3 linked regions of the Homo sapiens genome follow. The protein of the gene in region 3 purifies or fractionates together with the protein of the main gene of each other region. This does not show direct contact. Each region holds a gene or a part of one and is shown on either strand. Other genes may lie near its edges.

The links.
Region 1: the proteins of RAB11FIP1 (region 3) and NOTCH2 purify together in Homo sapiens (affinity purification with western blotting, with the first as the bait; one study listed by BioGRID). This does not show direct contact.
Region 2: the proteins of RAB11FIP1 (region 3) and RAB11FIP2 purify together in Homo sapiens (affinity purification with western blotting, with the first as the bait; one study listed by BioGRID). This does not show direct contact.

The regions. Positions count from the first base shown.
Region 1 is NC_000001.11:119,919,620-119,923,276, forward strand, and holds part of NOTCH2 (neurogenic locus notch homolog protein 2 isoform 1 preproprotein), read right to left. Parts: intron 3,160-3,657; coding exon 3,017-3,159; intron 2,828-3,016; coding exon 2,617-2,827; intron 2,191-2,616; coding exon 2,094-2,190; intron 779-2,093; coding exon 610-778; intron 1-609. UniProt on the Homo sapiens protein: Functions as a receptor for membrane-bound ligands Jagged-1 (JAG1), Jagged-2 (JAG2) and Delta-1 (DLL1) to regulate cell-fate determination.
Region 2 is NC_000010.11:118,006,656-118,009,075, forward strand, and holds part of RAB11FIP2 (rab11 family-interacting protein 2), read right to left. Parts: coding exon 2,343-2,420; 3' UTR 1-2,342. UniProt on the Homo sapiens protein: A Rab11 effector binding preferentially phosphatidylinositol 3,4,5-trisphosphate (PtdInsP3) and phosphatidic acid (PA) and acting in the regulation of the transport of vesicles from the endosomal recycling compartment (ERC) to the plasma membrane.
Region 3 is NC_000008.11:37,875,378-37,879,034, forward strand, and holds part of RAB11FIP1 (rab11 family-interacting protein 1), read right to left. Parts: intron 2,175-3,657; coding exon 1,732-2,174; intron 1-1,731. UniProt on the Homo sapiens protein: A Rab11 effector protein involved in the endosomal recycling process. Also involved in controlling membrane trafficking along the phagocytic pathway and in phagocytosis. Interaction with RAB14 may function in the process of neurite formation.

The sequences.
Region 1 (3,657 bases), on a different chromosome or scaffold from region 3:
GAATGGAAAATTCCATAAAGTACTCAAGAAGGAGAAGGTAGTTAACCCTATGGTTGAAACAGCTCTATTTGACTAAAGTTATTCTTAGGGGCAAAGAATTCCCTGTACTTCTTGTAGTAACTGGTTATTAGTTTCACATTTGCCACCTTTTCCTCTGATAGTATCATTTCTGTAAAGAATAATGGGAAAGTACAAGTCTTTTTAAGCTGGGGGCTCTTCTCTAAACACGTTTTTCTGTTCAAGTTTAAGTGCTGTTATTTTAATTGGACATTTAAAAATATCTAATATTAATAGAACAATTAATACATGCATAAGATACTAACTATCCTCTGCTTTGGGATATTATTTTTCTATCCCACTACAATCTAACCCATTTTATCAGCCTGTTTAGTCTCAACACACTGTACATGAAGCAATGTGAAATCCTTCCCTTTCTGAGCTGATAATTTCTTTGTGGCTACATTCCTTAAGCATTCATTTCCTCGAGCTGATTTAGAGTCTGTGAAATTGGGAAGGGGTTTATGACTGGACAGGGCAAACACAGGGACAACAATGTGGAACCATGGGCAGACACAGCCCAGTGAAGAGGGGAAGAGGCCCGGTGCTGACCTGGGCCACGGACATTCACATCTAACACATCCACCTCCTGCTCTGCCTGAGGAGGGGTGAGAGCCAGCGATGGTGTCCTACGGATGTCTGCAGCTTCAAGGTGCTGCTGTGTCCATGGCCGTCGATCAATGGGGTCATCTTCTTCTGAGAGTAAGGCCTCATCTTCAGCCTGAAAGGTGAAAACAATGCTCCCTATCAATCTGGCCACCACCAGAAACTGCTAATCAGAAGGTGTCCAGAGCCTCCACCACCGCTGCTTATCTCCCATTGTTTTCTCTCTTCCTACTCCTCCACCCCTCCAGAGGATTACCTCAGCCTTGGCTTCCCACTGCTCTCGTGATGTGGCTCCTGCTTACCTTTCCTGCATCATCTAGACAACTCCCTCCCCCAATCCCAAACTCTAGGCTTTAGCCTTTAGATCTCCAGAGCACCCAATTCTCACTTTTCCTACCCTCCACTAGAAAGTAAACTTTAATTCTTCTTGTTGGCCCTAAAAAGCATACTCTGCTTACCTCTGCTTAACTGATCATGTGTTAAATGCTTACACAGCACTACATGGCCATCTCCACCACAAGGCTGTAAGCTTCTCAAGAAGGGAAAATAAGCCTTGTTCAAGGTTGTTTCCTTGTACTCAACATAGCACCCAACATGTAGTAAGCACTCAGGAAAGACTATTCAATAATAATAATCATGATAATTTAAAAGCAGCTACCCTTTACTGAATACCTAGTACATGACAGGAAAGTAGATAAGGCACATATGCCAACACAACAACTCACAGAGGAAAGGGTTATTATTATCCGCATTTTACAAGGAAGGATAATTACAAAGAGGTTAAGTAACTTGCCAGCTACTAAGCGGCAGAGTTTTGGATTTGAATCCAGTTCTGATATTAACTAAAGCAATCTTCTTAACCATCATGCTCCACCAGCTCCCAGCCATGCACAGCTGTGGATGGATGGTCTGCTTTTTCATGTCAGTCTCAGCCCAATCTACCACTTGCTTTTATATGGCTTTAGTTTCCTGGGCTCAAGGTATGGAGCCTCCAATGTCAACGTTTTGCCATGATCACTGGCTTTCATTTTGCCAATGTCAATGATAACTGGCTTTCTTCCACTGCTTAATTTCATCTTCTCTTATAGAAGAAGTGCCCATAAAGGATAAGGAAGAGATGTGGCCATGAAGGAATTGCCATCTACACACACCATTCCTGACTTGACTACTGCCAGCATAACACTAAAGGAAACAGATGTGCTTAGTATTTTTAAAGAGTTATTCTTGAAGAGCATATATAGGTAACCCAAGGTCATTTACGTCCTAAGGATTCCTGCTGTTTAGGAGAACCTAGGATAGTTATTGTCTGGGTAAGACATCAAGACTATCACTCTTTACTCCCATTCAGGACACTCTGGAGCTAAAGGACAGAAATTTGAAATGTAACCAGATAATGGCTGACAATGGTGGTTCTACCATGGCCACCTCACCTTTACTTTCTTTGGCTGGGGCCCTTCATCATCGACCCAGTGTTCACTTGTTCCAGTACCAATTAGGTTAGCTTCTGAGACTTGCACTGAGAGATTTCTAATATGATTATAAAAAGAAAAAATAAGAATGGCAGTCATAAACTAATACAGTGGTTTTCAACACTTTCCACCATGACACACTCCCGTGGCTATATTACAATTTTGCAGGGTCTTGGCCCAGAGAAGATGGGCAGTATTTTTGGTGACATTCCCTTGGCATTCATCCTTTCCCTTCCCATTGATCGTGAGCTTACAACAAAAGGGCACCTCAACACAGAAGCTGGGCGGCATTGTGATAATATACACAGAATAGATGCACCCACGCTCTGACTGTGGTTTCAGTCACTCACAAGGCATTTAGAATCATGGTCAATGTGAGTAAATGCCCAGAGCTTAGAATTTAAAATCATGATTCAACAAGATATGCTTTTCTAGTCATCCCTACTTATACTGTGAATAGTGGCTTATTGGCAATGCCTCTTACTTCAGCCCCACAGCATCCTGTCCCACTGGCTCACGACGCTTGTGATTGCTTGCATCTCGGCGAAGAGTGAAACCTTCAGGCAGCCAGAGAGAGCCATGCTTACGCTTTCGTTTTGCCATGATTACCCCCAGCAGAATAATAAACAGAATGATGACAACAGCAACAGCAAGGAGATAGAGGAGCTGAGTGCGTTCTGGAGTCAGGGATTCACCTGAAAGTCCACAGAGACAGGGAAAGTGCTGAATAAAACATTAACCTCTCAATGTCAGCATTAGATTCATTTAGAGGGCAACTTTGACCTCAACAGTCCTGAAAAAATAGAGGGCTACATAATGAAAATTGTTCCCCCAATTGACACTCTTCCCCCGCCACCTTTCCCCTTTACACCAGTGCCACTCACTGACGACAGACACAAGAGGGTATGACAGGGTCCCCTGTATGGCGTGAGAGGCCAGGAGAGCTGCTGCTGCATCCGTGTTCTTGAAGCAGTGGTCTGAGTCTTGAACACACTGGCGGTTGTCAATTTCCAGAAAGACTTTAGAGCTGTGGGATGCCAAGGGAGAAGCGGAGGAGGAGAGATGGGGGTAAAACAGAAGAGTGCAGGTCAGGCAGAACATGTCATAAAGGGTGACAGGAGCCTCCCTTCCTCCCCTTCAGCATCAGGTCCCCACCTCTGGGATGCTGCCTTAAGACATATCTCAGGAATTAGAATACTGTCCCTTGAGATCTTAAACACTAATTCCCACATAGAGGATGTCCCACCTTCCTTAGTCTGGCTGACCAAAGCCTTCTGGCTGAGGCAATGCATGACAAAGTGAGAAGCTGTGCTTTCCTCCCGAAGGTTTCAGTGGTCTTCTTCCACTCTTTCATACCTACTCAGTGGTACTTGGTGCTACTCTAAACATACATCCCTGTGTGTTTTTAGTCCTTATTTTCCTTTGTCTCTGCATTGGTATCTCAGCTAGCTGGAGGGTTGAAAGTTTGACAATATACCAACAAAGAGTGAGGTGTGAATGACAGAGCAACTGAAGATCATTACCT
Region 2 (2,420 bases), on a different chromosome or scaffold from region 3:
TGAAAATATGCAATAAGTTTACTCTAGGTAATGAGTGAAAATTCACAAACATTAGAACAGCAAATTTTCAGGCAGTGATGAATGTATTAATAGATCTAGTTTTAAATATAATACTTGTCTCAGATTTAAAGATAAAAATTTTGATTGAGTTATAACCAAATCACTCATGTATGAATAAAGCTAAGCCTCAATAGCTTTTATATAGGAAAAGAATCGCTCCTTAAAAATCAATTTCCCCATAAAAAGAAGAGCAGTACTTGAACCATACTTTTAAATGAGTTCTATTTATGTAAAACATATCCCCAATACAAAACTGACATCTTGGTTCACTCTATAAACAGCAAATTTGGCCAAAGCATATTATTATAGTATCTGCAGATACTGTCATAATACTGAAAACATAGATTTTCACATTTTAAGAAGTGTATGAAAAGACTCAATAATACTACCAGACAAAAACAAATGCTGAGAATTTTGTAACATTTAGTTAATTAAAAGTGGCACCATGTTTAAAAAAAAAAAAAAAACTACCAAGACCTCAAACGGGAAAATACCATTCTACACCAGACTTTGAGGTTTATTACAGAATCTTGAGGAGAAAAAAATTGATAAAAGCTATTTTTCCTTCTCCATTTCTTAAAGCATTTAATTTTTATGAAAAAAATGTTCATAATTTCAAAATGTATGTTCTTACAGTAAAACTGAAATGCAGAAGATACAAATAACAAGGGGTTTTAGTTTACAAATACGAGCTTGGCCAAGTATTCTCTGATTCAAAATACTAAAATAAGCAAAAAAAAAAAACCCAAACTATTATATCGGCTTTTTGTTTAACTTTCAATGGAGTCTTAACAGAGATAAGTATTAGAAAAAAATGCAATTCATGGAAAGATTGGGGAATATGTAAGTCTCCATATGGACATGAATTTTCATTTTAAATTCAGAAAGACATAGATACTCTCAGTGTTTTATAGTATTTCAGACTTTAAAGGCTGAAAAATAAGCAGAAGATTAGCAATATTTTTATAACATTGCTTGTCAATTTAAATTTCAGAAAAAATTTGTACAAATCATATAAAAATAATCCATGGAAGAAATCAGTATTTTGGGGGAGTGGACTTTAAAATAGAACATAATTTTGTAATAAATCAATTCTTAAAGGGTGGATGTGGAGTAATGCATAATGTCACGCTCGTAAAGTTCTCTTCTAAAAACTCACTCTTCCTTTAGTAAGTCTTATTTTGGTTCAAGACCCAAAGGCAACCATCTGCTCTATTATTTATGTAACCTGAAACCAAGCCTAATTCTTCATTCCTGGAATCTGCCCGCTGCTTTGGGTTATCAGACACACCAGGCAATCACATACTTCCCACAATTATTTTCAGATATAACTTTATAATATTTGCTTTGCTAGTGATTTAAAGGCATGCAGAATTTCAACAAAACAAGCTATATTAGCTTATCTTCTGCTTATACCTTAAACAAACTCAAATGTTAATTAATTCAAATAAATTCATGCTGTTATGAAGTTAATGAAGTCTCCTAAAATTTGTCATTCTTTAAAAAAGGACTTGAGATCATCACTTTTGGGGAAAGAGAAAAACTTTGATGCTAGAATAATATATAGCAGCTCACTTTGAAACCAAGGTCCATGTAGTCAAGAGTGATTTGAAGCAGCTTCTCTATAACAAACCATGACAGTAGGAAGGATGACTTGTCTTGCATCAATAGAGCACACACATTTTCAAATCAAGAAATTGGTAGCCTAACTTTAGAGGCAATCAATTGTTTCTAAATGTTCTAAAAACACATGTATATATGAGGTATATGCCTATATTTTATATACAAGATACATGAATATATATATATTCATGTACATATGTGTATATAAAATATAAACTGTTTTTTTAGTAGTGTTTATAACGAGCAGTATTCCTGAAGCTAAATATTTCTACAAACTGATTTCTGAGAAACCAGCCACAGGATCAATTCTGCTTTATGAAAAATCTATTCCTGAGGAACAACTCACGTACTTCTGAAGATATTTCTGGGCCTATGGCAGATTAGTGGGTCAGTACCAGCACCTGAGTGAGTCCTAAGGAACCACTTATTCATTGAGAATCTGGCCCATTTTCAATTTAAACATTTAAATGATTTAGCTTGCTTCAAAGGTCACTCTTGATAGTCCCTGCTAATATTTACAGGTAAAACTACTCTTCACAATAAAGGAGAATATGTAATGAAACCTGATAGTGTAGTCTCTTTCAGTAACAAGTTTTTCCTTCCTTCCTTCTTTCTTTCTCTCTCTTTGTCCAATTATCAATACAATACAATTGGCTTTATTAACTGTTAGAGAATTTGCCAGCTTTCCTGGATGGTTCATACGGCACTCTGAGAATACTGGGCGTTTCTTCCATTAC
Region 3 (3,657 bases):
TGTAGGGGCATCTGTCAACGTCTGGATACATTTCTGGTTGCCACAACTTGGAGGGGGTGTGCTGCTATTCGTATCCAGCAGGTAGAGGACAAGGATGATACTGAACATCTTACAACGTATAGCACAGCCCCCCACGACAAAGGCCTGTCTAGTCTAAACTGTCCACAGTGCTGAGGTTGAGAAACTCTGGGTTAAACCAATGAAAAGGGCAGCACTCTTGGTAGAGTAGCAGAATCCGGCCAATGGGAGGGATTTAGACATTGAAATTGAAGTTCAAAATACATAATTAACTCAGAGCTAAAGGAAGCAGATTCCTTGGCTTCTGATAAGGCTATATCCCACGAGGGTTGAGCACATCACAGGAACTCAATAACTACCTGATGAATTAATGAAATATCAGAATTACCATAAGGTTCCATGGTTTTACCCTTAAAAAAAAGAAAAAAAAAACTTGGAAGACACTCATTCTGTTAGCTCTAAAAGCTTGTACTAGTGGACATCATTTATAGAGCCAGGAACTCTGGAAAAGGAATTTATACATTCTTAGAAACCAGAGGGTATAATCCCAGCACTTTGGGAGGCCAAGGCAGGTGGATCACTTGAGGTCAGGAGTTCAAAACCAGCCTGGTCAACATGGTGAAACCCCAACTCTACTAAAAATACAAAAATTCACCGGGTGTGGTGGCACGGACCTGGAATCCCAGCTATTCGGGAGACTGAGGAAGGAGAATTGCTTAAACCCAGGAGGCGGAAGTTGCAAAGAGCCAAGATCGCACCATTGCACTCCAGCCTGGGTGACAGAGCAAGACTCCATCTCAAAAGAAAAGAAAAGAAAGAAAGGAAGGAAGGAAGGAAGGAAGGAAGGAAGGAAGGAAGGAAGGAAGGAAGAAAGAAGGAAAGAAACCAGAGGGCTTAGAAATAGAGAGGGCATCTCAGCCATGGGCAATGGTTCACACCGGTCATAAGAGCCCTTTGAGAGGCTGAGGCAGGAGGATCACTTGAAGCCAGGAGTTTCAGACCAGCCTGGGCAACATAGTGAGACCTCATCTCTAAAAAAAAAATTTTTTTTAATTAATCAGGTGTGATGATGCACACCTGTAGTCCCAGCTCCTCAGAAGGCCAAGGTGAGAGGATTCCTTGAGCCCAGGAGTTGGAGGCTGCCGTAAGCTATGATCGCGCCACTGCACTCCAGCGTGGGCAATAGAGCAAGACCCTGTCTCTAAAACAAACAAACAAAAAATATTTTAAAAAAAGAAACAGAGAGGGCATTTTTTTTTTTTTGAGACAGAGTCTCACTCTGTCACCCAGGCTGGAGTGCAGTGGCACGATCACAGCTTACTGCAGCCTCTACTTCCTGAGCTCAAGCAATCCTCCCAGCCTAGCCTCCTGAGTAGCTGGGACTACAGGAGTATGTCATCACATCTGGCTAATTTTTATATTTTTTGTAGAGACAGGGTTTCACCATGTTGCCCAGGCTGGTCTCAAACTCCTGGGCTCAAGCAATCTGCCTGCCTCAGCCTCCCAAAGTGCTGGGATTACAGGCGTGAGCCACCACGCCTAGCCTTAGAGAGGGCATCTTAACCACCGCTATCATCATCCCCACCACCATGATTTTGTAATTGAGGAATTGAATTAAACTCTTTCTCTTGAGATTTGTCTGTTTCTTCTCTCTCAGAACGAAGCATGGTAAGAGGAAGAAGAGAGGTCAAGCAGGAAGAGGCAGAAACTCACCATCCGAGGCCGAGGAGGACTCATCCTCATTGTCATCTTCATCCCACTGGGACTGAAAGTCTCCGGGACGAAGCAGCACTTTTTCTGGCTTTGAAGTCGGCAGGACAGACATGGACTGGGAAAGAGGCGTCTTCTGCAAATTTGACTTGGAAAGTAAGGTCTTGATCTTTGATTTCTTTTTCTTGTCTTTAACCACAGACTCATCATCACTGTCGACCGAAGGTGTCGTGCTAGGGATGATGGCGGAGGCGGTGTCTGACCCACTGTCCTTATTCTTCCCCTTGATCTTGTCCTTCAGCTTTCCAAATGGATTCCGAGACTTGTCTTTCATAGAAAGGTCAAACATGCTGGCAGTCATGTTGTTTCTCATAAACTGGATGTCAACCTCAATTTCTCCTCGCTCCTTGTCCTTCTTTCCTGGTTTGGATTTCAACTTATACCACCTGAAAGGAGAAAGGCTGAGGAGTTACCTTTGAATGGAAGCAACTGCAACAATGTTCACAATCCCCATGAACTGGCCTCTCCTCTCTGCTACCAGCAGCCTCTTCAATGCATGCATTCTCATGCTTTCTCTTCGGGAAGTGGTAGATGAGAGCAGAATTTTTTTTTTTTTTTTTTTTTTTTTTTTTGACACAGAGTCTTGCTCTGTCACCCAGGCTGGAGTGCAATGCCACCATCTCGGCTCACTGCAGCCTCTGCCTCCTGGGTTCAAGTGATTCTCCTGCCTCAGCCTCCTGAGTAGCTGAGATTACAGGAGCGCGTGACCATGTCCAGCTAATTTTTGTATTTTTAGTAGAGATGGGGTTTCACCATGGTAGCCAGGCTGGACTCGAACTCCTGACCTCAGATGATCCGCCCGCCTCAGCCTCCCAAAATGTTGGGATTACAGGCGTGAGCCACTGCACCCGGCTGAGAGCAGAATTTGCACTTTTATTTCTTTTGTTTTGTTTTTTATTTTGCACTTTTATTTTTGAGAAGACACGCGCTAGACAAAGATAGGATCCAGTGTTGTGCTTAGCGTATAATCACCTCAAATCCTGATTCAATAAAGAGCTCATTCTAAAAATAAAGAAAAAAAAATATTCCATGGAATCACTTCCGATGAGTGATGTTTTCCTTCAGTAGGGTAAAAATGTAAAGATCAGGGCAGGTGCGGTGGCTCACACCTGTAATCCCAGCACTTTGGGAGGCTGAGGTGGGTGGATCACAAGGTCAGGAGTTCGAGACCAGCCTGGCCAATATGGTGAAACCCCATCTCTACTAAAAATATAAAAAATTAGCCGGGTGTGGTGGCAGGCGCCTGTGGTCCCAGCTACTCAGGAGACCGTGGCAGGAGAATCACTTGAACCCAGGAGGCAGACGTTGCAGTGAGCCGAGATCGCACCACTGCACTCCAGCCTGGACAACAGAGTGAGACTCCATCTCAAAAAAAAAAAAAAAAAAAAAAAGCAAAGATCATACACAAACAGTTAAGAAGGGTGGCGTGCAAATGATGTATAATTAAATCTCAGAGAAAATCAAGTTTGTAGTAAGGAATGGTCCCTGCCAGGGAGTAAAAAAATAATAATAATACAACACAGAATTAAAAAAAAAAAAAAAGTGGGGAGGGGGTTGGGCATGGTGGCTCACACCTGTAATCCCAGAGATTTGGGAGCCTGAGGCAGGAGGATCACTTGAGGCCAGGAGTTCAAGACCAGCCTGGGCAATATTGCGAGACTCCATCTCCATAAAAAATTAAAAAATTTGCCGGCATGGTGGTGTGCGCCTATACTCTCAGCTACTCAACATGAGCCTAGGAATTCGAGGCTGCAGTGAGCTATAATTGCACCACTGCACTCTAGTCTGGGTGACAAAGTGAGACTCTGTTTCTAAAAATAAATAAATAAAAATAAAGAATTTTTTAAAAGAGTGAAATCAGGCTAGGCA